Linked DNA regions of Homo sapiens: region 1 is linked to region 2. The links come from fine-mapping of genetic effects on gene expression. A gene starts in region 2. The other region holds a variant in brackets. All regions are shown on one strand. Distances are between the middles of the regions. Region 1 overlaps LOC107983981 (a long non-coding RNA gene). Region 2 holds the start of CERNA1 (competing endogenous lncRNA 1 for miR-4707-5p and miR-4767).

Region 1 (16,734 bases), 840 kb before region 2:
AACAGGAGTAGAACCTGAGAGATGGGAGGCAACAACTCTAAGTCATCAGAAAAGGCACTAAATACTTTAACAGTGGAGAAGACACAAAGAAAAGCCCTTTCAGCATGCCTGCTACCTGGAAATAAAAGAGGAGTGATGAATTCATTTTTTTAAGTGTTAAAACAATGGTAGAAGAAATCTGAAAATAGTTTTCAGTACCAAGGAGTGGCAAATCTAAATTAACTGTCATGTAACTTTTATAACCACCTAATAATGAGTAATATGGCATTGGCATTCTCTTTATTTAGTGTACTAATTTTACTGTCTTATTTTCATGTCATAAAATAGTTTAAATGATTTTTGTGTATCTGTCCACTTCCTCATTTTTCCAATGTCTTATCTATAAGATCATCTGATTCTCAACTATGAATCCTCCTATTAGATGTCTTGCAAATCCTTACAGATTTGGAAGCAACTCCTATGTATACATAGGAGTAGTATGAAAGTTCTATGCAAGTCAATAAGCTCAAATCAATTACTGGAACTGTGTGTTGTGCTATACAACTCAGGGGGTGGAAGAACAAAGAAAGACAGGAAAGATAGTAAAACATGTTCCTCCACCTGAAAGAGTTCACAATACGTGGTGAGAATAGATTAAAAAACACCAAACCATAGTAGATGTGGGAAATAAAGAAAAGGGATCCAAAGTGTTTCAGGACCACTGTTTGTGTGAAACTGGCAAAAAGGAAGGTTCTAGAAGTTTTCACAATGGAAGACACATTTAAACTGAACCTGTGAACAACACAGGCGTTTGCCATGCTAAAAATGGAGAGCAGAGGAAGGGAGCATTCTAATCAATGTTCATGACCTGTTAAAGAAACCTCCCTGTATCAATCAGGGTTTATAGCCACCATAAGTATTACAGGAATCAGGGATTTATTTTAGGAATTAGACCTTACACAACTGTGGGAGGAGCTGGGGAAGTGAAGGTCAGGATATCAGAGGAGAAGTCATTAACCAGTCTACCTAGAGCACTAGCAAGGGAAGAAAAGTTGAAGCTTGCAGTGAAATCCAAGAAACCAATTTATCTAGCCACCAAAGTGAAACCACAAAGGAAGAGCTTGTGGACAGGACTAGAGGAAGCTATGGTCTCTAAAGATCACAACCTCTGCACACTCATAGTCAAGAGTCTTGTAGTGGGCTTGAGACCACTACTGGTCAGCAGAGCAGCATTTGGGAAGATGTGTTAGACACAGAGAAGAGGAGAGCCATGATCAGCTAGAACCCATCAGGTTCTGTATCTGACTGGGACAAACTTCCAAATTAACAACTGCTGCTTCTCTCCCACCTCCCGAATTTCATTCAAGTTCTTCCTTCAGACATCTAACTGGGAACCCTACAAAGAAGGGTTTCTAAGAAATAGAATTCCCAACTTAACCAAATTGGTGTTGCCAAATCTCAAGGAAGTTGTAAGAAGGAAAACTGGAAAGGGTTCTTTGACACCAAGTAATTTCTTCTTGGTTCTGAAGAAATTGGAGCGTCATTAAAGGTTTTATCAGCAGACTGCATGTCCAATTTCTCTTTATTAAAAATAACTTAAGTGACTACGTGCTGTAACTCATAGATAGGGAAGGGAGAGAAGGTGATTTCATGTCTCCCTGAGTTGACTCAAGTTATTTCTTCTCTCTCAATTGCTCTTCTTGCACATCCAGTGAAAAACTCTTACTCCTCACAGATTTCATTCAGACATCACCTCCTCTGAGAAGCCTCCAATGACTTTCCACTGCATATCCTCCATTTCTCCCTTTGGGCTCCCATAACATCTTGTACATACTACTATTAAAGCACTTTTCATATTGTGGTGTAATTTTCTGCTTTTATGGTTGTTTTTCTTCAGTAAACCATAAGTTCCTTGTGAAAGGGGACTATGCTTTATTTCTCACTGTTTACCCAAGATCTTGTTGATAGTAAGTGCTCAAAAGACAGAGAGTGAAGAAATGAATGAATGGTAAATGATTGAGTGAAAAAGAAGCCTATTGAGGATGTTAATGCAGTAGTTAAAGCTAAAGGTCCAAAAGGCTTGGATTAGAAGAGTGGCAATGGGGATGCAGAAAGTGGGGAATAGCCAAGTAACATTTAGAAACAGACTGCCTAGGATTTGTTTGATACCCATTGAACATGGAAGATGTGGGAGATAGACCCTGATAAATGTTTAAAATGAGGGTATAAAGTTATAGAATAAATCATAGTAAGTTTCATCAAAGAGATGAAATTGTTACAACATTAAGAAGATTATGTCTCCATAAAATAAAATATAATCAAAGCACTTCCCAACAAATGGGCCTAAATTAGCGGTGGCTAGCTTAAAAGAGGTGAATACTATTATATGTTAGAATTTTCTGCAGGAAACCTTAATTCCTAAGCTTCTATCTCTACTTTTTATTTTGTTTCACTTGGCAGTTACCACTGGGTGACTTTAATGGAATCAAAAGAACTGTAACAACACATAATGACTTTTAATGCAATTTTGACATGAGGCATCATTGGTATCATTGGCGTATTGCAGATTTTCAAAATGGCTCCACACTGAGCTAAGGAAGGCCAGGAAGCGCTCTCTCTCTCTCTCTCTCTCTCTCTCTCTTTCTCTTGCTGTGTCTCTTCAAATAGGCTGAATCTCCTTTCATATAGACTTGGGTTTGAATTTCAGCTTCACTCTTTATTAGCTGAATGATCTTAGGCAAGTTTTTTAGCCTTCTAACCTCACTGTCTACATCTGTAAAATTGCTATAACACCAATTCCTGTATTTTATATGTTAAACGCTTAGGGAAATATCTGACTGGTGGGGTAATTCTGGTTTTTTTTTTTTTAGTATTTTCTTCTATTTGAAAGAGTTTCAAATAAAGTAATATATATCTATGGCAAAAAATTCAAAAACACCTCTTGAAGTTCATTGAAAAATTCTTCTTCTCTTCCTTTCTTCTAGTCACATAGTTCTTTAGCCAAAGGAAATTACTATTATTCACTTTAGAAATAGGCCACACATTTTCCATATACATAAATTTTGTATATCCATACTATTCTGAACTCTGTTTTTTTGTTCACTTAATATTGAAAGACTTTCAGATAAGTATACATTGCACTGTGTCATTCACTTTTTTAACAGCTGTTTCATATTTTATTGTATGGATTATTCATAAATTATTTAACTGGTCTCTATTAAAGAACATTTCAGTAGCTTCTAATCTTTTTACATTTCAGTGTTGCAATATCCTATAAATGCATCACTTCACTGATATATGATTGTATTATAACATAAATCAAAGTGGAAATTTTGGTCAAAGATATGCATATGTATATTTTTCTTTTCTTTTTAAATCATTTTAAGGAAAGTGCACAAAATTTTAAAATGCACATCTCAGGAGGTGGGGCAAGATGGCAGAACAGAAGCCCACACCGTTCATCCTCCCCACAGCAACAGCAAATTTTAACAACTATTTGCACACAGAAAAGCACTATCACAAAAAACAAATCAAAAATAACAACAACTTTTCAAGACATAGACAGTAAAATATGACATAAGGAAAAGCAACAAAAAGTTTAAAAAGTGAGGATGAAGTTAAAGTATAGAGTTTTTATTATTTTTCTTTTTGAATGTTTGTTTATGTGATCAGTGTTAAGTTGTCATAAGTTTAAAATAATGGGTTATAGGATAGTATTTGCAAGCCTCACAGTAACCTCAAATCAAAAAACACACAAAAAAGTACAAAAATTAAAAAGCAAGAAATTAAGTCATACCACCAGAGAAAATCACCTTCATTAAAAGCAATACAGGAAAAAGAAAAAAAGAAGAAAGGACCACAAAACAAGCAGAAAATAAATAACAAAATGGCGTAAGTCCTTACTTATCAATAACATTGAATGTAAATGGACAAAACTCTCCAATCAAAAGACACAGAGTGGCTAAACTGATGGAAAAAAACGAGACCCAATGATATGTTGCCTACAAGAAATATACTTCACCTATTTAAAAAAAAAAAGAACACATGCACTGAAAATAAAGGGATTGAAAAAGATATTCTACGCCAATGGAAATCAAAAAAGAGCCTTTCAATCTAAAAGGTCTTTAAATCTAAGATCTCAAACTATGAAACTACTAAAAGAAAACTTTGGAGAAGCTGTAAAGGACATTGGTCTGGGCAAAAATTTCTTGAGTAATACCCCAGAAGTACAGGCAACCAAAGCAAAAATGGACAAATGGGATCACATCAAATTAAAAAGCTTCTACACAGCAAGCAAGCAACAAAGTGAAGAGATAACCCACCAAATGCAAGAAAATATTTGCAAACACCCCATATGACAAGGGATTAATAACCAGAATTTATAAGTAGCTCAAACAACTCTATAGAAAAAAAATCTAATAATCCAATCAAAAGATAGGCAAAAGATCTAAATAGACATTTCTCAAGATAAGACATACAAATGACAAGCAGGTACATGAAAAGATGCTGAACATCATCTACCATCAGAGAAATGCAAATCAAAACTAATATGAGATATCATCTCACCCCAGCTAAAATGGCTTATAAATAAAAGACAGGAAATAACAAATGCTGGAGAGGATACAGAAAAGAAGAGAACCCTCATATACTGTTGATGGGAATGTAAATTACTCCAACCACTATGGAGAACAGTATGGAGCTTTCTCAAAAAAAAAAAAAAAAAAAAACCTAAAAATAGAGCTATCATATGATCCAGCAGTTCTACTGCTAGATATATACCCAAAAGAAAGGAAATCAGTATATCAAAGAGATATCTGCACTCCACTATTTATTGCAGCACTGTTCATAGTCGCCAAGATTTGGAAGCAACCTAAGTGTCCATCAACAGATAAATGGATAAAGAAAATGTGGTACATATACAAAATGGAGTTCTATTAATCTATAAGAAAGAAGGAAATCCTGTCATTTTCAACAACATGGATGGAGCTGGAAATCATTATTTTTTTTAAATAAACCAACCACAGAAAGACAAACATTGCATGTTCTCACTTATTTATGTGATCTAAAAATCGAAACAATTGAACTCATGTAAATAGAGAGTAGAAGGATGGTTACCAGAAACCAAGAAGGGTAGTGGGGAGTGCAGGGGGAGGTGAGGATGGCTACTGGGTACAAAAAAAACAGGAAGAGTGAATAAGACCTAGTATTTGATAGCACAGCAGTGTGATTATAGTGAATAATAATTTAATTATACATTCTAAAATAACTGAGAGTATAATTGGATTATTTGTAACACAAAGGATAAATGCTTGAGGGGATAGATACCCCATTTTCCATGATGTCATTATTAGTCATTGCATGCCTGTATCAAAATATCTCATGTACTCCATAAATATATATACCTACTATGTACCCATAAAAATTAAAAATTAAAAAAACTGTACTTCTCAATTATCACAGTGACATCCTGTGATGGTTAATATTGAGTGTCAACTTGACTGGATTGAAGGATACAAGGTATTGTTTCTGGGTGTGTCTGTGAAGGTGTTGCCAAAGCATTTGAGTCAGTGGACTGGAAGAGGTAGACCCACCCTCAATCTGGGTGGGCACCATCTAATCAGCTGCCAGCACAGCTAGGATAAAAGCAGGCAGAGAAACATGGAAGAACTAGACTGGCTGAGTCTTCCAGACTTCATCTTTCTCCTGTGCTGGATGCTTCCTGCCCTCAAATATCAGACTCCAAGCTCTTCAGCTTTTGGACTCTTGGACTTACACCGGTGGTTTGCCGGGGCTCTAGGGCCTTTGGCCACAGACTGAAAACTGCACTGTTGGCTTCCCTGCTTTTTAGGTTTTGGGATTCAGACTGGCTTCCTTGCTCCTCAGCTCGCTGAGAGCCTATTGTGGAACTTCACTTTGTGATCATGTGAGTCAATACTCCTTAAGAAACTCCCTTCCGTATATACATCTATTCTATTAGCCCTGTCTCTCTAGAGAACCCTGACTAATACACATCCCACTTCCTTGGCCAAGAAACAGAATGTTTCCAGAATCTCAAAAGCCTCATCCTAATCACCAATCTTTATAGTCCCCTAAGACAACCTCTGTCCTGGTTTCCATGACAATACCTTCTTACCAACTCTCACTTCCAAAAATGCTTCACCAAACACCACAGCCTACTCTTGCCTGCTCTTCATACTCTTCATTAACAGAGTCATAATGCAGATATGCTTTCAAATCCTTCATTTGTTCAACATTGTACTTGTAAGAGGAATTCATGTTGTTGCACTTACATGTAGTTTATTCATTTTCATGGCTGTATAGTATTTCATTATATGAGTATACCATAATTTATACATCCATTCTAGATAAGACATTTGGGTTGTGTCAACCATTAAAATAATGTTTTTATGAACATTCTCGTATATGTCTCCTGGTACATATGAGTTCCCATTTATGCGGGGTATAAATCTAAGACTGTAATTGCTAAGTCAAAGAATACATGTATCTTTGTCTGTCCTTAGTAGATAATACCTTACTGTTTTCCAAAGTAGTTGTACCAGTTTACACATCAATGAATGTGAGTTCACCTAGTTCTACATCTTCAACACTAGGCATTTGTCAGTCCCATTAAGCATAGCAATTCATGAAGATGGCAAATAGTATCTTCTTATGGTTTTAATTTTAATTATTAAAGAAGTTAGGCAAATTTTCATGTATGTTTAGGCCATTTGAATTCTATATTTTGGGGAGTACCTATTCAAATCTCTTGCTTATAGGTTATTTCTCTTAATTTTTCCTTTTTATTTTTCACATTTTGAATACAAAGACTTTGTAAGTAGATTTCAAATATGTAATATTTCTTGCAAATACTTTCCTTCTTTCTGTTTTGCCTTTTCACTTTCTTTTGATAAAAAGAAATTCTTAATGTTAATGTAGTCATATTTGCCCTTTTTTTATAGTTAGTGTTTTTTCCACGTTGGACCACAAAGATATTCTCCTAAGTTATCTTCTAGGCTGTTACTGTCTTGCCTCTCACATTTACATCTACCTGGAATTGATTTTTTTTATGGAGTGATGAAGGGGTCAAGTTTCTTGTTTTCCATGTTTTTACTCATTTTTCCTAGCATAATTTATTGATAAGCCTGAGCTTTCCCAACCATTTTGGTGTGCCACCTTTGTCATAAATTTAATGTTCATCTATCTGTGGTCAATTTCTGAACTTTCTATTATAGCCCACACTTTTATTTGCTTATATCTTATCATCTTCTGACTTGCCCTTTTTCAAGAATGCCTTAATTATTCTTGACCCTCTGAATTTTCATTTAAATTTTAGAATCAGGTTGTTTCCACCAAAAAAAAAAAATGAGCTTTTTATTGGGATGAGGATGTTTATTGGGATTGAACTGAAAAGGTAAGATTGAACGGCATTAACATCTTTCTTATATTAAATCTTCAAATCTATATACATTTTTTCTTCCAGTTATTTATATATTATTCTTAGTTTTATGGTATGCTTTGTGGTTTTCTGCATAGATGTCTTACACATCTGCATTAACCCGTTTTCATGCTGCTGATAAAGACATATCTGAGACTGGGAAGGAAAAGAGGTTTAATTGGACTTACAGTTCACGTGGCTGGGGAGCCCTCAGAGTCATGGCGGGAGGTGAAAGTTACTTCTTACATGGCAGCAGCAAGAGAAAATGAGGAAGAAGCAAAAGCGGAAACCCCTGATAAGCCCATCAGGTCTCTTGAGACTTATTCACTATCATGAGAATAGCATGGGAAAGACTGGTTCCCATGATTCAATTACCTCCTCCTGGGTCCCTCCCACAATACATAAGAATTCTGGGTGATAAAATTCAAATTGAGGTTTGGGGGTGGATACAGCCAAACCATATCAACATCATGTTTTAGATTTGTTTCTAGATAATTTATATTTTTACGCTATTGTAAATCGTATTTTTATTCATTTCATAGCTGTTTATTACAGGTATATAAGTTCACAGTTTATATTTCAATATTGACCAGTAATACTATAAGTCATGCATTAACTAAAGTCATGTATTACTAATGTTATCTGTACATTCTTTTGAATTTTTTCATAAAATCATATCATTTTTTGTAATCCTTTTATTTCTCCCTTCCAATCTATATACCTTTTTTCTTTTGGTTTTTCTGCCTCTTTGCACTGGATAGCATTTCCAGTATAATGTTGAAGAGAAGTGGTGATACTGAGGATCTTTCTGTTATTTCTAATCTCCAAAGAAGAGCATTTAACCATTAAGTATAAAATTATAGTAGACTTTTTATAGATATCTTTTACCATTAGGAAAATCTTCCTGTATTCCCAGTTTACTAAAAAATTCTTATTATGAACCAATGTTAAATTTTATTCAAT[G/A]CAATTTCTGAACTTATTGAAATGGTCGATTTTTTCTCGTTTACTCTAAGTTAATTTCACTGATTTCAAAGGCTAAAGCAATCACATTTGATTTGTAACATTTTTATTAGGTTTTTTTAATACCTCTATGCCTATAAGTGAGATAGGCTTTATACTTGATATAAAATGTGTCTGGAATATTCTTTTGTGTAACATGATAGTTATTTTGGTCCTAAATGTCTGATATAATTTCTTATCTGATCTGATCTAGAGTTTTGTTTGTAGGAAAAGCTTTAATTTCAGATTCAATTTTCTTAACAGTTAAAAGACTATTCAGATTTTCTCTTTCTTCAGATGTCTTTTAATAAAATTGTACTTCTTTAAGAATGTGTTCATTTCCCCTAAATTTTGTAAAGTTTTGCTATAAAGTTATTCATAATAGTTTCTTATCATTTCAATATCTAGGACCTGAGATAATCACTTTTTTATTCTTGACATTGATTCCTCTCTGTTTCTCTCTCTTTCTCTCTCTTTCTGTGTGTGTGTGTGTGTGCATGTGTGTGTGAGTTTGTGTGTCTCCCTCTCTTGGCCTCACCAGAAACTTCTCAGTTTTAATAGCTTCTTCTAAAACCAACTTTTGCCTATATTGATGTATTGTACATTTATTTTTTGTTTTCAACTTCATTATTTTCTACTCTAACATTCATTATGACATTTCTTCTGCTTTCTTTGGTTTGATTTGCTGTTATTTCCCAACTTCTTAAGACGGATGCCTAGCTCATTAATTTCAACCTCCCATTTTTCCTAACTTATGTACTTAAAGCTATAAATTTCCCTATAAGCAAAGCTTTTTACTATATTTCACAAGTTTTGATATGTAACATTTCCAAAATCATTCAGTTGAAAGTATTTTAAAATTTCCATCATGATTTCTTCATTGAGCCATGGGTTATTGTTTAGAAGTATATGTCTTCATTTTCCAAAGGTTTGTGAATTTTATAGTTTCATTTTTGTTATTGATTTCTGGCTATGATTTTTTTTATTTCAATGAGTGAGCTGATTTCAGTCCAGAACAAGATTTTGTACTTCCAGGTGCACTATCCAAATGGTTCATGTGTGGAGCCAAGTCACAGCTAAGATTCAACATCCTGAGTCACATTTCAAAGCTGGGTATATAGCCAGCACATCTCACTAGCTCAGAGTTACTTTAATAAATGGCAACCATCTTTACATGTAAGATTCTGTTGTTCAGACCAGAAACTATTTCTCCCGCTCTAACTCTACTTACAAATGATTTCCTGGAGCTAAGCCAAAAACCCCAACAGGAAAGTGCTAAAATGGTGTACTAGTACAGATCCTTAGTACCGGGCACTACTCCATAAGAAGCTACCATATATCCTACCTATGTCGAAGCTACCCCCTCAAGTTATGTAGGCTCTCTGTGTGACCACACACAGCAGCCCTGCCCTCTTCCCACACTAAGCCTCAGCCAGACAGATCCATTTTCCTTAGCTAAAATGCCAGCTGAAGTAGGTCAGAAACCATGTATATTCAACCTTGTGTCTCCTGTGACATTTAGCTCAATTCCTAGCACCTGTGTTCAATAAATGTCTGTTGATGGATAAAGTAAAGGATGAATATCTGGACAGAGAGTCAGATAACAGAAGAAATTGAGCAAGTTTATTTTCTCCTACAAAGGACTGAGATCCTTTTTAAAATAGAGGTGGAATAAACATAAACTTAAATCAAGTTTCATATAACATAGAAAGCCAGCATCTATGAAAAGGAAAAATAACAAGACAGTCATCCTCTGAAATAATGGAACTTAAACCTATGAAGGAGAACATACAAGGTGAAACTATTAAAAACTAAATGTTGGTTGAAAAGGCAGTTGGATTCAAGAAAATTTAAAATGATGACAGGGTTTTTTTCTCCCTCCCAGATGCAGATAAAAGGTATTAGAATGCCTCAGCCACTTGGAAACAGCAAGATAGTGCATAAAGATAAACTCTGGAGCTTTACTTCAAGAAGGAAAATGGGAATCCACCAGAATCATGATGGGCACCACAGATACTGGGGAGGAGAACGCCAGCAAACAGCTCCTGTGACATTTAGCTGATAAAAGTGAGTGAAGCCTGAGTACCTCAGAGAGGCAAGTAGCCTCCCTCTATGACTCACATTTCCACTGGGGATCAGAGCAACCCAGGCTGAGGGAGAGCACTTTGTTTCCCATAAGTGTGGGAGCTAATTTGGGGAAAGGCTTGGAGACAATGTAAGGGAAAGACACAAGAAAAAGCTGCAGACATTTTCCCAGACCCAGGACGGAGAACAGGACACCATTTTTAGCCCAGGCACATACAAAGTCAGCCATTCTTTGGTGACCTGGCAGCATGAACGTCAGGCATTTTAATATCAGACCAGAGACTGGAATGCCTGCTCTCGAGTGAGGGAGAAAACTATCCTAAATATATACACACCCAACATTGGAGCACCCAGATTCTAGACTTACTAAAAGACTCGGAAAACCACACAATAATGTGGGGGACTTCAACATCCCACTGCCAGTGTTAGACAGACCATCAAGGCAGAAAACCAACAAAGAAATTCTGGACTTGAATTAGACACTTGACCAACTAGACCTAATAGACATCTACAGAATACTCCACCCATCAATCACAGGATATATATTCTTCTCATTTTCACACAAAACATAACCCAAGATCAACCACATGTTTATCCATAAAACAAGTCTCAATATATATTTAAAAATAAAAACATACCAACCATGCTCTTGGACCACAGTGGAAGAAAAAATAGAATTCAATACCAAGAAGATGTCTCAAAACCACACAATTACATGAAAATTAAACAACTTTCTGCTAAATGAATTTTGAGTAAACAATAAAATATAGGCAGAAATTTAAAAATACCTTGAAATTAATGATAACACAGATATACCAAAATCTCTAGGCTACAGCAAAAAGAGTGTTAAGAGGAAAGTTTATAGCACTAAATGCTTACCTTAAAAAGTTAGAACGATTTCAAATTAATGGTCTAACATCACACCTAGAGGAACTAAAAAATAAAGAGCAAACTAACCCCAAAGTTAGCAGAAGAAAAGAAATAACTAAAATCAGAGCAGCACTGAACAAAATTGAGACCCAAAAATTCATACGAAGGATCAACAAAACCAAAAGTTGGTTCACTGAAAAACTAATATGAACGTCTCTGTGCACACAAACTAGAAAATCTAGAATAAATGAATAAATTCCTGGAAACACACAACCTCCTATGATTGAATAAAGAGGAAATTGAAACCCTAAACAGCCAAATATCAAGTTCAAAAATTGAATCAGTAATTAAAAACCTACCAACCAAAAAAATAAAATCCCAGACCAAAAGGATTAACAGCCAAATTCTACCAAATGTGCAAAGAAGAGCTGGTACCAATTCTTCTGAAACTATTCCAAAATACCAAGGAGAAAGGACTCCTCCCTAACTCATTCTACAAAGCCAGCATCACCCTGATACCAAAACCTGGCAAAGATACAATGAAAGGAAACTACCATCAATGTCCCTGATGAACATAGACACAAAAATCCTCAACAAAATACTAGGGAACCAAATCCAATGGTACAGCAAAAAGTTAATTCACCATGATCAAACAGCCTTCCTGGGATGCAAGATTAATTCAACATATGCAAATCAATAAATGTGATTTGCCACATAAACAGAATTAAAAACAAAAACCACAGGATCATCTCCATAGATGTGGAAATAGCATTCAATAAAATGCAACATCATTTCATGATAAAAACCCTCAACAAACTAGGCATCAAAGGAGCATACCTCAAAATAATAGGAGTCTTCTATGACAAACCCACATCCAAAAAAATGTCATACCAAATGGACAAAAACTAGAAGCATTCCCTTTGAGAACTGGAACAAGACAAAGACGTTCATTCTCACCACTCCAATGCAACATAGTACTAGAAGTGTTAGCCAGAGTATTCAGGCAAGATAAAGAAGTGAAAAGCATCCAAATAAGAAAAGAAGTCAAACTCTCTCTTTGTAGACAATATAATTCCATACCTAGAAAACCCTGAAGACTCTGCCAAAGGCTTGCAGAACTGATAAACAACTTCAGTAAAAGTTTCAGGATACAAAACCAATGTAAAAAAAATCAGTAGCATTTTGTGTTTTGGTTTTTGTTTTGTTTTGGTTTTTGAGATGGAGTCTCACTCTGTCACCCAGGCTGGAGTGCAGTGGCACAATCTGGGCTCTCTTCTACCTCTGCCTCCCGGGTTCAAGCAATTCTCCCTGCTTCATCCTCCCAACTAGCTGGGATTACAGGCGCCCACCACCACACCCAGCTAAATTTTGTATTTTAGTAGAGATGGGGTTTCACCATGTTTGCCAGGCTGGTCTTGAACTCCGGACCTCAAGTGATCTGCCTGCCTTGGCCTCCTAAAGTGCTGGGGTTACAGGCATGAGCCACCACACCCACCCATCAGTGGCATTTCTATACACCAATAACATTCAAGCTGAGAGCCAAATCAAGAACACAATTCCATTTATGATAACAACACAAAAAATAAAATACCTAGGAATATCCAACCAAGGAGGTGAAATGTCCCTACAAGGAGACCTACAACATACTGCTGAAAGAAACCATAGAGGATATGAACAAATGGGAAAATATTCCATCCTTGTGGACTGGAAAAATCAATATTGTTAAAATAGCCATACTGCCCAAAGCAACCTACAGATTCAATGCTATTCCTATCAAACTATGAATATTATTTTCCATAAAACCAGAAAAAACTATTCTGAAATTCATATGAAACCAAAAAAAGAGCCCAAATAGCCAAAGCAATCCTAAGCCAGAGGAACAAAGCTGGAGGCATTACGTTATCCAATGTCAAACCATTCTGTAAAGCTACAGAAAAGAAAACAGCATGGTATTGGCACAAAAATAGATACACAAACCAATAGAACCAAATAGAGAACACAGAAAGAAAGCTGCACACCTACAGCCATCTAATCTTCACCAAAGTTGACAAAAATAAGCAACAGGAAAGGTCTCCCCATTCAATAAATGGCGCCAGTATAGCTGGCTAGCCATATGCAGAAAGAAGAATGAAACTGGACACCTATCTTTCACCATATACAAAAATTAACTTGGGATGGACTAAACACTTAAATATAAGACCTCAAACTATAATAGTCCTAGCAGGAAAACCTAGGAAATGCTATTCTGTACATTGTCCTTGGCAAACATTTTATGGCTAAGTCCTCAAAAGTAATTGCAACAAAAACAAAAATTGACAAGTGAGACCTAATTAAATGAAAGATCTTCTGCACAGCAAGAGAAACTATCAACGGAGTAAACAGACAACCTACAGAATGGGGAAAATATTTGCAAACTACACATCCAAAAAAGGTCTAATATCCAGAATCCACAAGAACTTAGAGAAATCAACAAGCAAAAACCAAAGAACCCCATTGAAATGGGCAAAAGTCATAAGCAGGAACTTCTCAAAAGAAGACATACAAGCAGCCAACATACGAAAAAAGTCTCCACATCACTAATCAACAGAGAAATGCAAATCAAAACCACAATGAGATCCAATCTCACACCAGTAAGAATGGCTATTATTTTTAAAAAATCAAAAAATAACAGATGCTGGTAAAGCTATAGAGAAAAGGGAATATATGCGCTGATGGTGGGAATGCTAATTAGTTCAGCCACTGTGGAAAGCAGTTTGGAGATTTCTCAACGAGCTTAAAACAAAACTGCTATCAGACTTACCATTCCCATTACTGGGTATATGTCCAAAAGGAAAAAATCCTTCTACCAAAAAGACATATGCATTCATCTATTCATTGCAGCATTATTCACAATAACAAAGACATGCAATCAACCCAGGTGTCCATCAACATTGGATTGGATAAAGAAAGTGTTGTACATCTACACCATGGAATACTACGCACCATAAGAAAGAATGAAATCATGTTCTTTGTGAAGGCCATTATCCTAAGCAAATTAAAGCAGAAACAGAAAACCAAATACTGCATGTTCTCACCTACAAGTGAGAACTAAACATTGGGCACATCTGGGCATAAAGATGACAACAAAAGAAACTGTGGACTAGTAGAGTGGGAAGGTGGGGAGGGAAAAGGGTTGAAAAACTGACTATTGGGTACTATGCTCAGTACCTGAGTGATGAAATCATTTATATTCCAAACTTCAGCATCATACAACTGCACATGTACTCCCTGAATCTAAAATAAGAGTTTAAAAAAATTAATAAAGTATTCAAAAAATAAAATAAAATGACACATGTGGGGCTACATCCCTGATCACAAAAATAATTGTTCAGAAGTAAATACCACATAGTCTGGGTGTTTGAATCCAACTGTTTCCTAAACTGTTTGGCATGTTTTTTCATAGTACTGGGTTGGGGGAATCTTTTTGAAGGAGGGTCCTTTATGAAAATATCTGAAGTTTTTGGGTAGGGCATAAATATTCCTTCCAAAATTTCTCAAAGTTTTCATGTGTGTGTACACATACGTGTATCTGCATATGTATGTCTGTTCATGCTATAAGAAATATTAATAAGTGTTTTTAAAGTGATGCCCAAATACGTTTTGGAAACACCAAGATTAAATGCAGTTAAGCAAGTTTCTTTATTGTTCTAAAGTGCATTGTTACTCTATAAGAAACAGACATAATATATAGTATTTATATGACCATGTGACTCTATAACATCTTGCAGGACTAGTGTTCCACAGAACACACTTTGGGAAATGGTGCCCAATCCATAGAATTTTGGGTTTCTTTTATTACAAATGTATGTCCTGAAAATGAAAGGAGAATATGTCCCTGAATCTTAGGATAAACAAATTAAGGAAGACCCTAGAATAATGAGTAGCAGAAACCAAGGTTGAGACATTTAAAAGCAGATGTGAATTCTCATATATTACTGATTAAAGTAGCCTATGAAGGGCAATTTGGCAAGTTATCCTGCATATATACATGCACTTGAATCAAATGATACTTATGCATGATTATTCATATTAGCATTATTTGCAATAACTAAAGATTAGAAGCAACCTAAGTGTCCATAAGATGTTTGTTAAACCGTGGTACATATACATAATGAATTCTACACAGTTAATCAGGTCAGTTAAGATACAGGTCAATTCCAAGAGCATGAACCCCTCAAAGATTGTATGTTTCTTGCTAATCTTTTTATCTAAAGGATTGAGCACAGGTACCAAAATATTATAGGTGTTCCACAAATATTTGATGAAAAAATAAATTAAATAATTGAATGAATGACACAATTAAAGTCATAGCCTTTTATACCAATGAATTTAATTTCTGAATTTTCTTTCTTGGGACCCTAGTAATTCATCATCAAAAAACATACTAAGTACCTGTTATGTAGCATACATTATGCTGGATACAGAGACATAAGTCAGAAACAGATCTTACCCTTCAACAACTCAAGTCTTTCACAAGGGAAGTTAAGAGAAAATAAAGCACAATGGGAATTCGGGAGAGAGAGCTATTACTTTATCTGTTCGGTCATTACCAAATAATAAATACACAATGAAGAAACTAGAGAAGATTCTCAAGAGGCACTATCTCCTTGAAATATTTTTATCTGCTTCTAAGTGACCGACCATGATTCCTACAAACATGGACAGGAACTAGTGCCCAATTATTAAAATGCTGTTCTGGGACCTGGAAGGGTGAAAGGAAGTCTAACTAACTTCTTACTATCATGTTTTGGTGTGATTGTTTTGTATTAGCAAATCACTTTTCCATCTCCTGGTATTTTTCCATTTTTTTGTCCCATCATTTCTTCCACAAAATTCAGCTGCTAAAGTGCTCTATGCTTATTGTCTGTGAATAAATTTTGTAAAAAGGAGTCTACCTACCTCTGAACTCCAAAAACCTAAACTTCTAGAGAGCTGAAAAGGACTCTAGGCATGAATTTTTAAAATGTTGGAGAGAAGTGAGATTTAAGGAGTGTGGGGGCTCCCAAAGTGTTGAAATTTAATGTTTTTTAGTAGAAACCAGGGTAGAGCTCAGGTAGCAGAAAGGGCAGGAAGCACAGTGAGTCCAGACAGCCAGTACCCAAGGAAGCTTCAAAGAGATCTCCATGTTCCTATACGGCAAGAAAAAGTGGAATTACCATTGCATGGGAGTAGCATGGTAATTCTTCTCTCCTGGTGGGTAGGAGAGCCACTAGGCTTGCAGAAGCCATGAAAGGAAAGACAGCTGGGCACAGTGGCTCATGCCCGTAATCCCAGCACTTTAGTAGGCTAAGGCAGGAGGATCACTTGAGGCCAGGACTTCAAGACCA
Region 2 (16,734 bases):
TGGTGTAGGGCATGTGGGCGATTTACTTTCCCCTTTTTGTGTCCTTCTGTTTCCACTTATTTATTTATTTATTTTTAATTTTTAATTTTCTTTGAGATGGAGTCTCACTCTGTCACCCAGGCTGGAGTGCAGTGGCATGATCTCAGCTTACTGCAACATCTGCTTCCCGGCTTCAAGTAATTCTCCTGCCTCAGCCTCCCGAGTAGCTGGGATTACAGGTGCGCACCACAACGCCAGGCTAATTTTTGTATTTTTAGTAGAGATGAGGTTTCCTTATGTTGGCCAGGCTGGTCTCAAATTCCTGGCCTCAAGTGATCCACCCGCCTTGGCCTCCCAAAGTGCTGGGATTACAGGCATGAGCCACCACACCTGGCCCTGTTTCCAGTTATTTATAATGAACATTATCAGCATCTTTTATAATTTGAAAAAATTCAAAATTTAGTTTGAGAAGAAAAACATTGCCTCTATCTAGATATGGAATATCGGCTATCTTTTCAACTTGTCTTTCTCTCCCGTGCCTCCCAGCCATCCTTCTATTCCTCCTCCACTTGGTGCCATAGGTTCCTCTCGCCTTCCATTCCCATAGCTGCTCCTCTGTCCGCAGCTCATTTCCTCTTCTCCAGAACATAGCAATCTCTTAACCTAGTTTGTTTTCCTGCCGTCCCTTCTCTCTCTCTCTCTGACCTACTTCTGGAAGCACAAATGCTGGAATAATCCACGTGGATGACACTGCTCCCTTGCTTAACAGCCTGTGGCTCACCGTCCTAATGCTATTACTGGGAGTGTTCAGCCCAACCTTGTTACTGGCTGCCTTTACAGGGCTGGGGAGTGGGATGCAACAGTTACCAAGCCCCACCATGGGCCAGGCTCTGGAGGGCAGGCCCTTTTTTGTTAACTCACCTTTTGTGACAAAACCATGCAGCTTGACCATGCTAGCTTGGAAATAGGGTTCCAAAGTGTGTATTCATGCTACTTACAGACTCAGCTCTGCCGCTGACCTTGAACTTGTTTAATCCCCCTGCTTTTCCTCAGCTGTAACACAGATGTCCTGCCTCCCTCCCAGGGAGAGGCGAGGGCTGGGCACTCTGTGGCAGTTGGTAGCTGGTTTCCTTGCGAGCTGTTGTCCCTAAGGGATGCCCTGTACACCTTTGTTGCCCAGAGGTCTCGAACTGTGCTGACTGCCCCTTTGCTGTAAGAGCTCAGCCCAACTCATGAGCCCCCATTATCTCTCCAGCCCCAGGGTGGGCTCCACATGGCAGACGTTCCTCATCAGAAATGTCCCCAACTGTCACCTCCCCCATAAATGCATCCCTCTCAGATTTGACTCTGTTGAAATGTTCAGACCAGCGCCCCCAATTATCTTTATGTTCAGGGGTTCATTTCTTTGAATCTTGACGGGGCTCACTCTAGAACACCTACCAAATTGACAGGGCCACACTGGCTGCTCCCTTCCCCCTTAACCGCTTTGTCCTCATCTCCAGCAATGGCAACATAACCCCTCGGTCTCCCAAAGAAATCTAGGCCACAGCACCCACATCTCCCTCTCCTCAACTCCACATGCCAAATCCAGCTCCTTCTCTCTTTCCTAAGCATGGTCCAAGTCCATCCCACTACATTGCTTTGTGGGCCTAAAAGGAAGAGGCTGTAGCACAAACCAAGACTTAAGGAGTTTACTTGAGCCAAAGTGAGGACAGATTCCTGGAAGGCCCAGACCCAAGTAACCTTGGACATTATCTCTGTTTGGCCTTTGTTACAAGCAGTTTTTTTAAAAAGGCAAAAAAGAGGGACCGGGAGTGGGCTGATACAAAGTTGTTAGGAATTCTCATTAGTTTACAGAAATAACATTGATTAGCGACTGGTTATACATTGTTACACTACAGGGTGTGGGTTATAGTGTCCAGTGTGGCATTATTAGGTTATTTTTTAGCTACTTGTGCCAATGGCAAGCAGTTTCAAGAGATGAGGCCAGGTGTGGTGGCTCATGTCTGTAATCCCAGCACTTCGGGAGGCCGAGGTGGGTGGATAACTTGAGGTCAGGAGTTTGAGACCAGCCTGGCCAACATGGTGAAACCCTGCCTCTACTAAAAATACAAAAATTAGCCTGGCATGGTGTCTTATGCCTGTAATCCCAACTACTTGGGAGGCTGAGGCAGGAAAATCGCTTAAACCCAGGAGAACGAGGTTGCAGTGAGCCAAGATTGTGCCACTGCACTCCAGCCTGGGAGACAGAGAGATACTGTCCCAAATAATAATAATAATAATAATAATAATAATAATAATAATAATAAAAAGATGAATACACAGCTCAAAGTGGGGACTAGAACGTTATTGCTGTCTCATTTTCATGATTCTCTGGGCCTGATAATTTAAAAGGGCTTGCATTCCTCAGATAAAAGTTACTTTCTCACCTTTAGTCCATGACTTCCTCGCGTCTTGTCTGAACCGTTGCCATAGGCTCCTCTTATGCTTTCTTTGGCATCCCCAGCCTCACCCTGCCCCTACCCATGTCCCTCCTTCCCAAGGCAGCCACTGTTCCCGCTATTGCTGCCACTCAGGGCAGCATGACCTCGCTGGCACACTCCCTGTATTACCGACCTTGAGCTAAGTGCTTTACGCACTGACTCTTATCATTCTCTTGACAACCCCAGAAGGGTAGATTTTAAGATCTCCACTTGACAGATTAGCAAAACCAAGCTTCAGAGAGGTCAGCTAACTAGCCTCAGTGGTGGGCCGGGACCAGGCAGCCAGAGCCTGTCCCTGTAACCACTAGATGCTTGTGCTGCCTCCCTGCAGCGGCCTGGGCCTGTCTGTTGACTTCCTTGTGAACAGGCAGGGACCCTGGGTCTTTGGCTGTCAAATGTTTAATAAGTGAGTGCTTGCCTTGCACGGAACCCACACCACACTTACTCAGGCCCCTGGCTTTGGTTGGGGTCAGGCTCCATCATTTGCTGACCCTTATCTTTAAAAGTTCACCCTGAGGGGAGGAATGTTTTTAAAAGTTTTAAGTTATAGCATCCATTACAAAAACGTTTTCCATTGTGAAACCCCACAGAATTGATATTGTGCTGCAAGGATCAATCCTGCCTGACGCAGGTCTGCCAGCTGCCAAAAAACTGGTTAAACGTGTTAAGTTCAGAAAACCTATTGTCTGATGCTTTCTCACTGATTAAATGAGTTGTATTGACCCAGCATGTTGTAATAGTTGAAAGGTTATAAATTAACTGCATATACTCTATCCCACATGTAGACGTCTGAATAGCTACCACGGTACAAGCAAGAAGAGATTTTAGAAAGTTAAAACCATTGGCTTTTCTCACACCCCCTCCCTTCTTTTCACTTTTTTTCAGCTTTATCTTGGGTAAAAGATGTGTGATCAGACCTTTCTCGTTAATGTATTTGGCTCATGTGACAAATGTTTCAAACAACGAGCTCTGAGACCAGTTTTCAAGAAGTCTCAACAACTCAGCTACTGTTCAACATGTGCAGAAATTGTAAGTGCCACTTAAAAAAAATTCAGTTATCTGTCTTAAAACAGTCAAGCGAGGGTCCTGTGACAGATGAGATGCCATAGAATCAGCTTATATAACACACACTTTTCAGTATGCCTGGGCTTGGTGAGGCAGTATAGTACAGAGGTTCAGGGTGTGGACTCTGGTGTCTGACTGCCTGGGTCCAAATCCTATTGATGTTCCTAGTTATTGGTGTGCAAGGAGGTTCTCACCTCTCTCCTGAAGCCTGTTTTTCCCATCTGCAAATAGGAATGCTAATAGCACCTACATCATAAGAGTTTTATGATGATCAAATGATTTCATTTGATAACTTATTTTAAATAGTACCCAGCAAGGAAAGTACTCAATGAATGTTTTAGCTTCTATTATTTCTTAGGGCTAATACTTTTTTCTTCTGACTTCTACAAGTCTGCTTGGCAGGCAATCAAGCTAAAAGAGAAGCTGGCAAATAAACAGTCTAGGAGCATCTTTCCAAGGACCGGTCCCAGTGGTGTGTAGGTCCAGCTCTAATGAAGATGGAATCTCACAGGGCCTCAGTAGTGAGCAAAATTCAGCTCAGAAGTACTCCTTGGGCCTAAGCCTTCAACAAAGACTAGGAATGGAATACAAATCCTGGAATTTTTCAAAGTACACAAAATCAAGTCCTCACCAGAGGTGGCTGTGCACAGGCTTCAGATCTTGCAGCAAAAATGCCCACAGCATCACTGAAGCCCTAAGAATTAGTCCTATCTCTGAGAATTTGCAAAGCTGCGCTCAATAGTGCAGCTGAGCAGAGCCCCCACTTGGTGAAAAGTGGTAAAGCACTCCTCCTGAAAAGCCCAGTAGGAAATCCCCACACATTTAAAAAAACAACAACAAAATCCATAATACAACCAAAGAGAGGAAAGATGACTTTTACATTTTATCTAACTGAAAAAGAAAAGGCACTTTTTATCCTCCTGATTCCACTGTAACCCCTGACCATGATTACATTAAAAATTATTCCCTTAAAGCAAATAGCAAGTAAACAGCCCAGGGTGGCATAAAAAGGCTTTGATACAGCATAGCAATTTGGATATGTCTTCAGCCTAGGTGTAGTGGGCTTCTACCTGTAGTATATTTCTACAGTCTACGTTCTAACTTGGCCCTGCAAATTGTAGAACTGAGGACATTTAGTTCTTAAAAATAAACCTGCTTTCTGGGGGCCTTACCCCCCCCCCATTATTTATTAATCTAACTCTTCTGCTTTTTAAACAACTTCCTCTGCAGGTGGAATAAGCCCAAGAATCCCAGATTTTGAGTCCTCTGTGGCACACAGGTTCTCCCTAGCACAGGGGCCATGCCTGGAGATACTTTTCTAGGGAATAGTTGCCAGCTAGCGCTACTATTAGGTTGGGGCAAAAGTAATTGCGGTTTTTGCCATTGCTTTCAATTGAAGCAGTGGCACGATCTCGGCTCACTGCAACCTCTGACTCCAGGGTTCAAGTGATTCTCGTGCCTCAGCCTCCTGAGTAGCTGAGGTTACAGGCACAAACCACTATGCCTGGCTAATTTTTGTATTTTTAGTAGAGAGAGGGTTTCACCATGTTGGCCAGGCTGGTTTTGAACTCCTGACCTCAGGTGATACACTCACCTTGGCCTCCCAAAGTGTTGGGATTACAGGTGTGAACCACTGCGCCCGGCCCACACAATCTTACTTAATTCTCATAACAATTCTCATTGCTTTCAATTGAAAGCAATGGCAAAAACCACAATTACTTTAATACAATCTCTACTCTCTACTTGGGGGTTCCCAAATATTCAGACAGCATCATTCAGCTGAAGAGACATCCAGTGACTGACAGCTGGCCTTTCATCCAACTGTTTGGGATTATGTAGACACAGTCCCCATTGGGCCCTTTTTGTGAATAGGAGTGACCCTTTATCTCAACCACTGTGGAATGTAGCTGACCTCAACTTTTCTGATATCCAGCTTCCTCAGTGGGAGTTAACACCAAAATACAAGAAAGTACTTGGAAAACTGCCTAACCATTAAAAGTCTGATGGCCTCATCTCTAGATAGTTGACTCTCCAGGTTGGAGGCTGTTCGAGGTTTATTTTACACAAAGAACCCCCAGAAGAGGGCACACACCAGTGAGAAGTACCACGTGCCTCAGGTCTTCACAGCCAGGAGGACCTTGAACCACACACACATCCTGCAACGGTCCAAACAGAGCCAGCCTAAGGAGGTGATGAGATGAGGCTGCCTTGCCTGGGCCCCCTGAGATGGCCCTTGTGAGAAGAATCCCCCATGACCCAGTGTCTCATTTAAATTACCTCATGTGAACTGCTCAAGCGTATCAGGCAGCCTCAGTAATAATAACAGATGCATACTGTGTGCCACGCACTGCTCTCTCCGAATGCCATACAGAGTCTGAAGGAGGTGTTGTCCCCCATTCACAGATGAGGAGCCTGAGGCACCACAAGTAAATCCCTCAGGCCACAGAGCAGAGCCAGGATTTGCCCCCAGGCAGTCAGATCTAGATAGAGCCTGTGCTCTTAACCTTTTGCTTTACAAACTCTCAAACAGGTGTAATATTTTTGCTTTTATATATTCTTATCTTATACTTAATAATTGTATTTATATATTTATTCATTTATAAACATGTTTGTTATATGTTTATATTTTTAACATAGTTTATACAGATTTATATATTTTATATATTTTTTATACATCCATTTAATAAACTAGCATTAACTGAGCACCTACCATATGCAAGTACTATGCTAAATATCTAAATACTAAGGAACAGCGACAAGTAAACCTATTATTATACGGATGGGAACGGAAAAGAGAACTAGCAGTGAATAAGCATCTGCTATGTACGGAGAAGTCTGCTAAAGTCTTCACCCACACTATCTTACCTTTTTTTGTTTTGTTTTTGTTTTTGTTTTTGTTTTTTTTGAGTCTTGCTCTGTTGCCCAGGCTGGAGTGCAGTGGCACGATCTCGGCTCACTGCAACCTCTGATTCCAGGGTTCAAGCGATTCTCGTGCCTCAGCCTCCTGAGTAGCTGAGGTTACAGGCACGTACCACCACGCCCGACTAATTTTTGTATTTTTAGTAGAGAGAGGGTTTCATCATGTTGGCCAGGCTGGTTTCGAACTCCTGACCTCAGGTGATACACCCACCTTGGCCTCCCGAAGTGTTGGGATTACAGGTGTGAACCACCGCACCCGGCCCACACCATCTTACTTAATTCTCATAACAATCCTATGAAGCAGATCCTATGAAGAAGCTTTTCCAGATAAGGAAACGGAGGATCCCAGACTCTAACCTGCAAAACAACTATGTACAGATTAACATCGAGTACCTTCAACTTTTCTCAGATAGAGAAGGCCCGGGACAGCAAGTGGAGGCTGGCTTCTCTGGGAGGGAGCAGGTACAGAGAGGTGGGGACAGCACCCAAGATTCTGCTTGGCGATGTTCTCGCAGCATCTGTAACTTTGATCTGCCTTCTCATTCTCTGCACAAACGCATGCAAGATCACATAGGAGGGAAAAAGGAGAAGGCTTGAGTTGGATCATCCACACCAAAGTCCAGAGCACTAGGGAGCCAGCCTGTCTGGGTCCAAATCCTGTCTCTCCCTCTTTCTTGGAGCATGCCCCCTGAGCAATTACTCAGTCTTTCTGTGCCCCAGTTTCCTCTTCTGTAAAGTGGGAATAAGTGTGCCCATTCAAGTTGACTCCTGTGAGGATTAAACAAGTGCAAATTAAAGCACTTAGAACAGTGCCTCTCACACTTCAGGCGCTTGCGGAGAGGGGATGCTTCAGTCTGACAGAAGTCGCTAAACGTGCATCCTGGCAGAACTGTGCCAGCCCTTCATTCTAAAGGGCAGGAGGTGGCCTCAGAAGTGAGAGGTCCGAGATGCCTGGGCGTGGGCTCAGAAGCCCCAGGTCTGAGCCTGCGCGCCCACTTGACCCACCGCCATCTCCTTTTGCCGCCCCCAGGCCAGGGACCTGATTCCTGCGTGAAGAAAAGAGAAAATAAGGGTGGGCCTCCTAATGCCGCAGAGACTCCGTCTGAGAACCCAGCAACTAGTTTTATTTTTGTATATTTAGATCAACAAACGAAGAGGGTTTCCGGTTCCTTGTTGGGGGAGCACCGTAGCTACCTGCGGCCAAGCCTCGTAGCCGTCTCCTCTCCCGTCCTCTCTCTGCCTGCAGGAGCCACGGGCCCGCAGCCCGCAATCAAGTCCCACAGAGCGGAGATCTGCACGAGAGGCTTGGGGATGGGAGGGCCATGTCGCGGGGGCCTCACCGGTCTCCCCAGAAGCGGGGAGTCCCGAGTTGGAATCCCGGCTTGGCCCTTCCCTCTGTGTGCGTCCTCGGGCAAATCACCCAGCATCCCTAAGCCACAGTTTGCCCGCTGGTAAAATGGGCGTCACACTCCCTGCCTCTCCCGGAGGAGAGAGGCTGACGCGGACATCGCACCAGGCACTGCGCCAGAGCGCGCGCCCAGGTGCGGGGTCTTGGGGCTCAGGCGCAGCAGCCGGGCCCGCAGCTGCTGGCGTCATCGCGGAGGGCGGGGCCGCGGGGCGGTGCTCGGGGCCGGGGACGGCTGCTGGAGCGGCGCCCGCCGCGGCTCAGCGCATTCCCGCTCTCCGCTTCCCTCTCCGCTGCGTCCCCGCGCGAAGATGGCAACCGAGGGGCTGCACGAGAACGAGACGCTGGCGTCGCTGAAGAGCGAGGCCGAGAGCCTCAAGGGCAAGCTGGAGGAGGAGCGAGCCAAGCTGCACGATGTGGAGCGTGAGTGCGGGCCGGGAGGCGGGCGGGGCAAGCCGGACCGGCTCGCCACTTCCCGGGCGGGGACGGCGGGGGCGGTGGGGGCGGTCGTGGCTGCGACGGGAGCCAGGCCCGCGCCACCGCCCGGGAGCAGGGCCCTGGGGCCCGGGCGCGCAGGTGAGGCGCGGGTAGCGGTCCCGATCCCCGGGACGCGCGGCGGTGGGGCCCTCGGAGGGTCCGGGCACCTGGCCGACCCCCGCCGCCAGCTAGCGGAGGACCGCGGGACTAGCTATCCTCATCACCTGCCTGGAAGCTGCGAACGGATCGCGTTCTTGCCCCTCCCATGCGGAGGGCAGGGGGTGGGGTGTCGGTGGTGACGAGCGAGCGCGGCGAGCCCGTGTAGGCGCGGCCTAGGAGAGACTCCTGTTTTGTTTTTTAATGCCCGTCTGGCTTTCTCCATCACTGTTGTATCTTTTCTCAGTTTTGCTTTTATGAGACTGCAATTTCAAAGCTCATTTTTCCAACCTCTCCCCTATCCTTGGGGCGGGGAGCTGGATGACGGAGAGAGAAGGGAAACGGAGGAGCTCACTAAATTCAACCGTTCAGTTCGTTTAAGGCTGTTTAAAAAGCTTTTGGATCGATGTGGTGGATTGGCATAAAAAAGCCATAGCGATCTTAAACTTGCATTCTTCACCACCACCACCGTAATTCAGAACTGGCTCTGTGATTTTTATGAGTGAGCGATTAAATAGCCAGGTTCAGCGGCTCTTGGCCAAAACAGCGTTCCTTTACTTTGTCAGAGGGCTCCTCCTCAGCAGAGCTTGGGCTGGGGGCCAGGCTTGGGGAAGTGGTTGTATCTGCTCACTTTTGAGCTCTGAGGGTGGCATCTCCCCTTTGCTGAGCACCTCCCACGGTGCCCTCCTGCACACCTTGACGTTGTTCTCCTGCCATTCCTAATCGATGCCACCCTTTACATTCTATGTGGAATGGAAAAATGGGGTTCGTGCTAGGGCCTTTACCTTTTGATCTCTGAAGATCACTTAAGAGAAGTGGATGACCTGGATCTAGCGTGTGCTGTGCTTTCCTAGGGGTCTTCTTTAAATAGGAGGCACTCTAAGCTTAGAAATCCTGTCCAGCAATCACTAACTGTAAACCCCAAATAATGTAGTTATGCAAATTGAGAGTTACTTTTCTTACATAACAAGAGCAAAGGTGGATGATCACCTGCTGTTGTTCAGCTGCACCATGCACCCCCCACCAAGGGACCCAGGCTCCTTCTGCCTTTCTTCTCCACACCTTAGAGCAGTGGCATTTGCCCCATGATTATAATATGATTGCCACAGCTCCAAACATCACTTCTGTATCCAAGGCAGGAAGAAGGGGGAATATGGACACCAATCTCTCTTTGCTCCCTATCAAGAAAGCAAAGCAAAAGTTTTCCCAGAAATCCTTCTCCCAGTTTGAGACCAGCCTGGCCAACATGGTGAAAAGTATTCATAGGTCATCTAATTTCTCCATTTGACAGATGAGGAAACTGAGGCACAAAGAATTAAAGGACTTACCGAAGGTCCCCTGCTAAGTGTTGGGACCCGGATTCCCCCCAGGCAATCAGAGTGCCAGCTCAGGCTCACTTCAGATTATTTTCGCCAAACCCGTTTTGAGCTTCATGCAGAGGGCGTTCTCCAGAAACTCACTTATTCAATAGTGCAGGCTGCATGCCTGGATATTTTCAGGTTTTCTGTGAATTTGTAAGTTGCCTTAAGACAGAGAGCAGAGATGCAGCTTTTCAAAGGGAACCTCAGGGGGCAAATGTAGTCAATCCAAAAGAAGAAACTTTTTTTTGTCCTGCCAAGAGTGTGGTGCCCTCAAAAGCTAGGGCCAGATTTTAGACCCACAGTGGAAGGGTCTATCCCTACCTGCATATGTCAGAATTTGTGAGCTGGAAAGACCAGAAGTCATGTGGTTGTGTCCCTCTTGATTCCCCTGCAGCTTCCAGACCACTTCTCTTCTACCCCGCATAAAGCCTTTGCTTCTTGAAGGTTCTTATCACTGTATTGACCTCTTCCCCTTTGACATGTCTCCTGATCTCCCAGCCAGGTTCTCTCATTTCTCTACTTTTCTTTTCTTTTTTTTTTTTTTTTGACACGGAGTCTCCCTCTGTCACCCAGGCTGGAGTACAATGGCACAGTCTTGGCTTACTGCAACCTCCACCTCCCAGGTTCAAGTGTTTCTCCTGCCTCAGCCTCCCAAGTAGCTGGGACTATAGGCATGTGCCACCACACCCAAGTAATTTTTGTATTTTTAGTAGGCTTCACCATGTTGGCCAGGCTGGTCTCGAACTCCTGACCTCAAGTGATCTGCCCGCCTGAGCCTCCAAAAGTACTGGGATTACAGGTGTGAGCCACCGCACTCAGCCATTCTTTTCTTTATTCATCTTTATTTTTAAGAGACAGGGTCTCGGACCGACAGGGTGGCTCACGCCTGTAATCCCAGCACTTTGGGAGGCCAAGGCGGGTGGATCATGAGGTCAGGAGATTGAGACCATCCTGGCCAACATGGTGAAACCCCGTCTCTACTAAAAATACAAAAATTAGTTGGGCATGGTGGCAGGTGCCTGTAATCTCAGCTACTTGGGAGGCTGAGGCAGGAGAATAGCTTAAACCAGGGAGTTGGAGGTTGCAGTGAGCCGAGATCTTGCCACTGCACTCCAGCCTGGGCGACAGAGCGAGACTCCGTCTCAAAAAAAAAAAAAAAAAAAAAAAAGGAGGAGCTAGGCAGAGGCCCCAGGAGGGGGTGTGTTTGGTGTATCTGATGTATCTGAGGAAGAGTGAGGAGGCAGGTGTGTCTGGAGGGGAGTATGCAGGGCAGAGTCCAGCTGCAGGTTATGCTGGGAGCTCATGCAGGACCCCATGGGTGCAGTGAAGATTTGGGCTCTTACTCCCAGTGAGTTGGGAAACCCTTGGAGGGTTTTGAGAGAGAGGATGGATCTGATTGCTTTACTGGGCTCACTCTGCCTGCCATGTTTTGTGGCAGAACAAGACAGCTTGAGGGAGGGAAATGAAGTGTGAGAGGTAAGTGACCTGGGGTAAGAGTTCTTGACAAATGTCTCTTTCCCTCTTATCAGAGAGCCTACCTTGCGTGCCACTTGCCAGCTCCTAATGGAAGTTACAGCTGAAGGTGGAAGAGCGAGAGATGATTTCTGAGCTTGTCTTGGTCCCATAGTTGACCCTGCAGCCGCTCTTACCTTACCCCAGCCCAGACTCGCCCAGCTCCTTCCTAAGTGTGTTTGTCCCTTGGCACTCAGGTGGGAAAGGGAGGAAAGGATGCTGATGAGTTTTACTTGTGGAAGTATAAGCTAGAGCCCTGCCAGGTGCAAACAACAGTGCTGTCATTTTTCCCTGTATGAAGGAAAGTGGTATCATCCCCATCTGTGCGATGAGCGAGCAGGCTTAGCAAAGTCGAATAATTCCTTCAGGGTCATGCAGCTGGTTAGTGATTGGGCCAGGATTCAGTTTAGGAATGATGCAGCTTTCTTTGCAGGGCTCCCCATTGAGCAAGTGGCTGAGAGCCTGGGGGAAGGTGGGAAGGGTCTGGTGAGGCTGGGGAGGACCATAAACTGAATCTGTTCACTCCCCAGAGCAGGGGCTGGCAGCATGCACTTTCCTGTATCTCTTATGGTGACTGGCAGCCCCTTAGTTAACAGATGTTTTTGTTTGTTTGTTTGTTTTGTTTTGTTTTTTTTTGAGATGGAGTCTGGCTCTGTTGCCCAGGCTGGAGTGCAATGGCATGATCTCAGCTCGCTACAACCTCCACCTCCTGGGTTCAAGCAGTTCTCCTGCCTCAGCCTCCTGAGTAGCTGGGATTACAGGCACATGCCATCACACCTGGCTAATTTTTGTATTTTTAGTAGAGACAGAGTTTCACTGTGTTAACCAGGCTGGTCTCGAACTCCTGACCTTGTGATCCGTCCACCTTGGCCTCCCAAAGTGCTGGGATTACAGGTGTGACCCACTGCGCCTGGCCGTTTTTTGTTTGTTTGTTTGTTTGTTTTTTGAGACGGAGTCTCACTCTGTCGCCCAGGCTAGAGTCCAGTGGCACAATCTCAGCTCACTGTAAGTTCCACCACCCAGGTTCAAGCGATTCTCCTGCCTCAGCCTCCCAAGTAGCTGAGACTACAGGCATGTGCCACCATGCCTGGCTAATTTTTGTATTTTTAGTGGAGACCGGGTTTCACCATGTTGGACGGGCTGTTCTTGAACTCCTGACCTCAGGTGATCTGCCCGCCTCAGCCTCCCAAAGTGCTGGGATTACAGGCGTGAGCTAATGTGCCTGGCCTGACAGATTTGTTTCTGACACACACAGGCCTTGTTTCTTGCCCAGCTGAGATTCCCAGCCCCTGCTTCGTGATGACCTCTGCAGATATTTCCCATTTTGGAATCCAAGGATGGTTTCCTGTGAATTGGGAATGTGTGGCCAGACACATGAGTTTTATAGTACCAAATTAGGGTATGCGGCTGACACCAGAGGGGTATGGTTTATTCCCCAGAGCAACATGTGTTAGATGCCTGTACATTTTTGCATTTTAGTGTTGCTATATAGGTGGCCCAGTAGCCTCTGCCCTAGTCAGGGAGACCCCTTTAGGCTATCAGCTAAGGTAATCAACTCATCCCAGTTTGCCTGGGACCCTAGGTATGTGTGTTTGTTTGTTTGTTTGTTTTTGAGACAGAGTCTTGCTCTGTTACCCAGGCTGGAGTGCGGTGGCACGATCTCGGCTCGCTGCAACCTCCGCATTCCAGGTTCAAGCAATTCTCCTCCCTCGGCCCCACTAGTAGCAGGCACACACCATCTCGCCCAGCTAATTTTTGTATTTTTAGGAGAGATGGGGTTTTGCTATGTTGGCCAAGCTGGTCTCGAACTCCTGACTTTAGGTGATCCACCCGCCTCAGCCTCCCAAAGTTCTGGGATTACAGGCGTGTGCCACCGTGCCTAGCCAGACCCTAGGTTTTAAAATGGAAAGTCCTGCACCCCAGGAGACCCTGCGGCCCTAGGCAAACCAGGATAGTTGTTACCTCCTATTGGCTTGGACTTGCCCAAATTCTTGCCTTAAGGTAGCTTAAGGCAACATATTAAAATTGTATAGCATAAACTTTGAGGAAAAAATGGTTTCCTCTCTTCAGACACTGAGTTCTTCACCTCCATCCCTTTGGCCCTCATCCCCAAGCCAGACCCTTGGCCAACATTAAATATAGGAAGTATTAATAGCTTATATGGGTCCTCTGATGGGAAGCCAGCTCACATCAAACTCCACAGCCCCAAGCCCCATTTTCCCCTTCCTCCCACAGAGCTTCCTGCTTCTCCCCAGAGCTTTCTCCTTGTCACTTTCTGCTTATCTTCTACCACAGGCGAGTACTACCTCGCTTGATTCCAAGGCATTTTAGAATCATATGGTTACAGTGTGCATTCATTTCTGATTGCTACTGTACAAATTTCCACAAACTTAGTGGCTTGCAATAACATACATTTGTTTTCTTATAGTGCTGGAGGTCTATAATCGGTGACTAAAATGGGTGGGCAGGTCCTTCTGGAAGCTTTAGGGGAGAATCCATTTCTTGCTTTTTCCAGCTTCTTGGGGCTGCCCATGTTCTTGGCCCAAGGCTCACGTGATTCTGAGCACTGCTTCTGTGGTCACCTCTCTCTCTGACTCTAACCCACCTGCTCCCTCTTATTAGGATCCATGTGATTATGTTGGGCCCACCTGGATAATCCAGGATAATCTCCCCATCTCAAGATCCTTAACTTAATCACATCTAGAAAGTCCCTTTTGCCGTAAGATAGTATCGCCACTGGTTCTGGGGATTAGGATGTGGATACCTTTGGGGGCCATTATTTAGCCTATCACACAGCTTTTAGATCAGGAGGGTTCCCCTGCTTCAGCTTCAGTCTTCCAGCACAAAACATTTCCTTCTCTTCCTAACAGCCCTGTCCCTTATAGATGAAAAAGCAGCTGAGATCCAGGGAGGGGTGAAGGGATTTCCCTAAGATTTTGTAGCTACTCTAATGTTGAATAGGGAGTAGAGAAGATTCAAGCTCCCAGGACAGCTGTCCTCCTCACCATGCTAGACCTTCTCTTAGAAAGTTGAGATTTGCCAACAGTCTCCCTAACTGACCTAGTTCCGTCTACCTCTTCCACTTCACCTTGGATCAGTCTATGCTTTGCTCACTATCGCCAGTCACACTGGCCATCTTGGTGAGCTTCAGACCATCAAGCTTGTTCTTGCCTTCAGCCTTCAGACATGTTGTATTCTCTCTTCTGGAATGTTCTCCCACTTCTTTGCCTAGTTTACTTCATATATTCTGTCTCGGTTCATATTCCACCTCCTCAGAGGCACCTTCCCTTATTATAAAAAGCAGTAAATGTGCTGGGCACGGTGGCTCATGCCTGTAATCCCAGCACTTTGGGAGGCAGAGGCAGGTGGATCACTTGAGCCCAGGAGATCAAGACCAGCCTGGGCAGCATGGAGACTCCTTAATCTAAAATGGCCATGTCTGTCCCAACTTCCTACAATTTCAGCTCCCTTTCATTGTTCACTTCATCACTCTCTAAAATTACTTTCATTCATTTATTCTTTGTTGACTGATTGATGATTGGTTGATTTTATGTCTCCCTTACTAGAATGTAAGTACCTTGGCAGCAGGTACTTTATTTGTATCATTTACTGTGGATCACCCTCCTACAACAGTGAGCTAGGCTAAGTAAATATTTATCAAATGAAAAAAAAAGATTGGCATTGAAAAGAAAGAAAAGTAAATCCACGTATGAAAAGGTGCCGATTTTTTTTATTCAGTAAAAGAAAATAAAAAGCAAAGTGCCAAACAGTATATATAACATGATCTTAACAAACAAGAGGTGCTTGTATATGCAGTAAATGTCTGGAAGGATACGCAAGGAACTTGTTATCGCTAGAGAGGGGTATGGAAAGTGAAGGTGCTTTTCATTTTATACCCATCTATACATTTACTGTTTTTGAGCCAGGTTCTCACTCTGTCACACAGGCTGGAGTACAGTGGCCCGATCATGGTTCACTGCCGCCTCAAACTCCTGGCTACCTCAGCCTCTCAAGTAGCTGGGACTACAGGTGTGTGCCACCACACCTGGCTAATTTTTGCATTTTTTTGTAGAGACGAGGTTTCTCCATGTCGCCCAGGCTGGTCTTGATCTCCTGGGCTCAAGCGATCCACCTACCTCTGCCTCCCAAAGTGCTGGGATTACAGGCATGAGCCACCGCACCCAGCACATTTACTGCTTTTTATAATAAGGGAAAAATGAGTACTAGAATGGGAGTCAAGATCAAGAATAAAAGGAGGCCGGGCATGGTGGCTCACTTTGGAAGGCTAAAACGGAAAGATCACTTGAGCCCAGGAGTTGAAGACCAGCCTGGGCAATATAGTGAGACCTCAACTCTCAAAAAAATAAAAATAAAAAAATAAAAATTAGCCAGGCATGATGGTGTGTACCTGTGGTCCCAGCTACTCGGGAGGCTGAGGTGGGAGGATCACTTGAGCCCAGGAGGTTGAGACTGCAAAGAGCTATGATTGCACCACTGCACTCAAGCCTGTGTGACAGAATAAGATCCTGTCTCAAAAAATAAAAAATAAAAAGAGAAAGGGGAAAACAATTCAACTCTAAAGAGTCTTTAACTTGAAATTAAACTGAGGAATAATCTGCAAGACAGGCTCAAACCAGACAGACCAGGAAGGACATGGTGTTCATTTCAGCCAACAGGCACAGCAGCCTCCTGGGGCTGTGTGGGAGCTTTACTCCAATTCCCAGGTCCTTGAGGCAGATGCTAATATTGTTAAGGAACAAAGCAAGTTTATGTCGTTTCTCTGAGTACAAATCTAGACTAAATTTGATAGAAGGATGTATTATCTGATACCATTAACTTTTCTATCTATTCTAAATGTAATTTTTTGAAAAGTTTTATTATTGAATGCTTTATGGCTTAGAGTCTTGGACTATTCTGATTTATGGCTTAGGGAAAAATCTAGGAAAACCAACTTTCTAGATTAGCCTGGAGCAAACATATTCCTTGACTTTTTTCATATTCTAAGAAAATGTGATCTGTGTACCGACGCTTACAGAAGTCGGTTTCTCTACAGTCATCCTCTTCCCTGCTGTTTGGCCACATGCCTCCTGCAGCCATCAGAGGCAGCAGAAAGCTAACCTGCCTTCATTTCCTTTCCCCTTCCTTTCTCTGCATTCACTGTTATACTCGAGCTGGCTAATGCAAGGGTGTTTAGAGTACTTTCCCAATAAACAAATGCTCACTGTGGAAAAATCTAGAAATATAGAAGAAAACAAGTCATTCATAATCTCAATACCTAGAGGTAGCCATTTTTAATATTTTCATGTATTTCATAGCTTATGTTTCCATGTTTGTGTATATATTTATAAGCTTACTAGGGACTGTACTAGATAGAGGA

Evidence for each region. PIP is the estimated chance that this variant, and not a neighbour inherited with it, causes the effect.
Region 1: its variant is the best candidate, but not a certain one, in a credible set for the expression of CERNA1 in substantia nigra (GTEx, PIP 0.53).

The regions. Positions count from the first base shown.
Region 1 is chr15:53,013,960-53,030,693 of GRCh38, reverse strand. The region is part of intron 4 of LOC107983981 (a long non-coding RNA gene); the gene reads right to left. Among named protein-coding and RNA genes, the nearest start is that of LINC02490, 94 kb to the left of the region's middle. The variant G/A (reference allele first, on the strand shown) is at 8,378.
Region 2 is chr15:52,171,308-52,188,041 of GRCh38, reverse strand. It overlaps CERNA1 (competing endogenous lncRNA 1 for miR-4707-5p and miR-4767), which reads right to left and starts at 8,016. Exons shown (of 3, transcript NR_102751.1): 1 at 7,641-8,016; 2 at 6,840-6,992. It overlaps GNB5 (G protein subunit beta 5), which reads left to right. Exons shown (of 13, transcript NM_016194.4): 2 at 3,348-3,491; 3 at 8,163-8,274. The coding sequence starts at 3,366. RefSeq lists enhancers at 3,468-3,637, 7,486-7,575, 7,399-7,900 and a silencer at 7,946-8,605.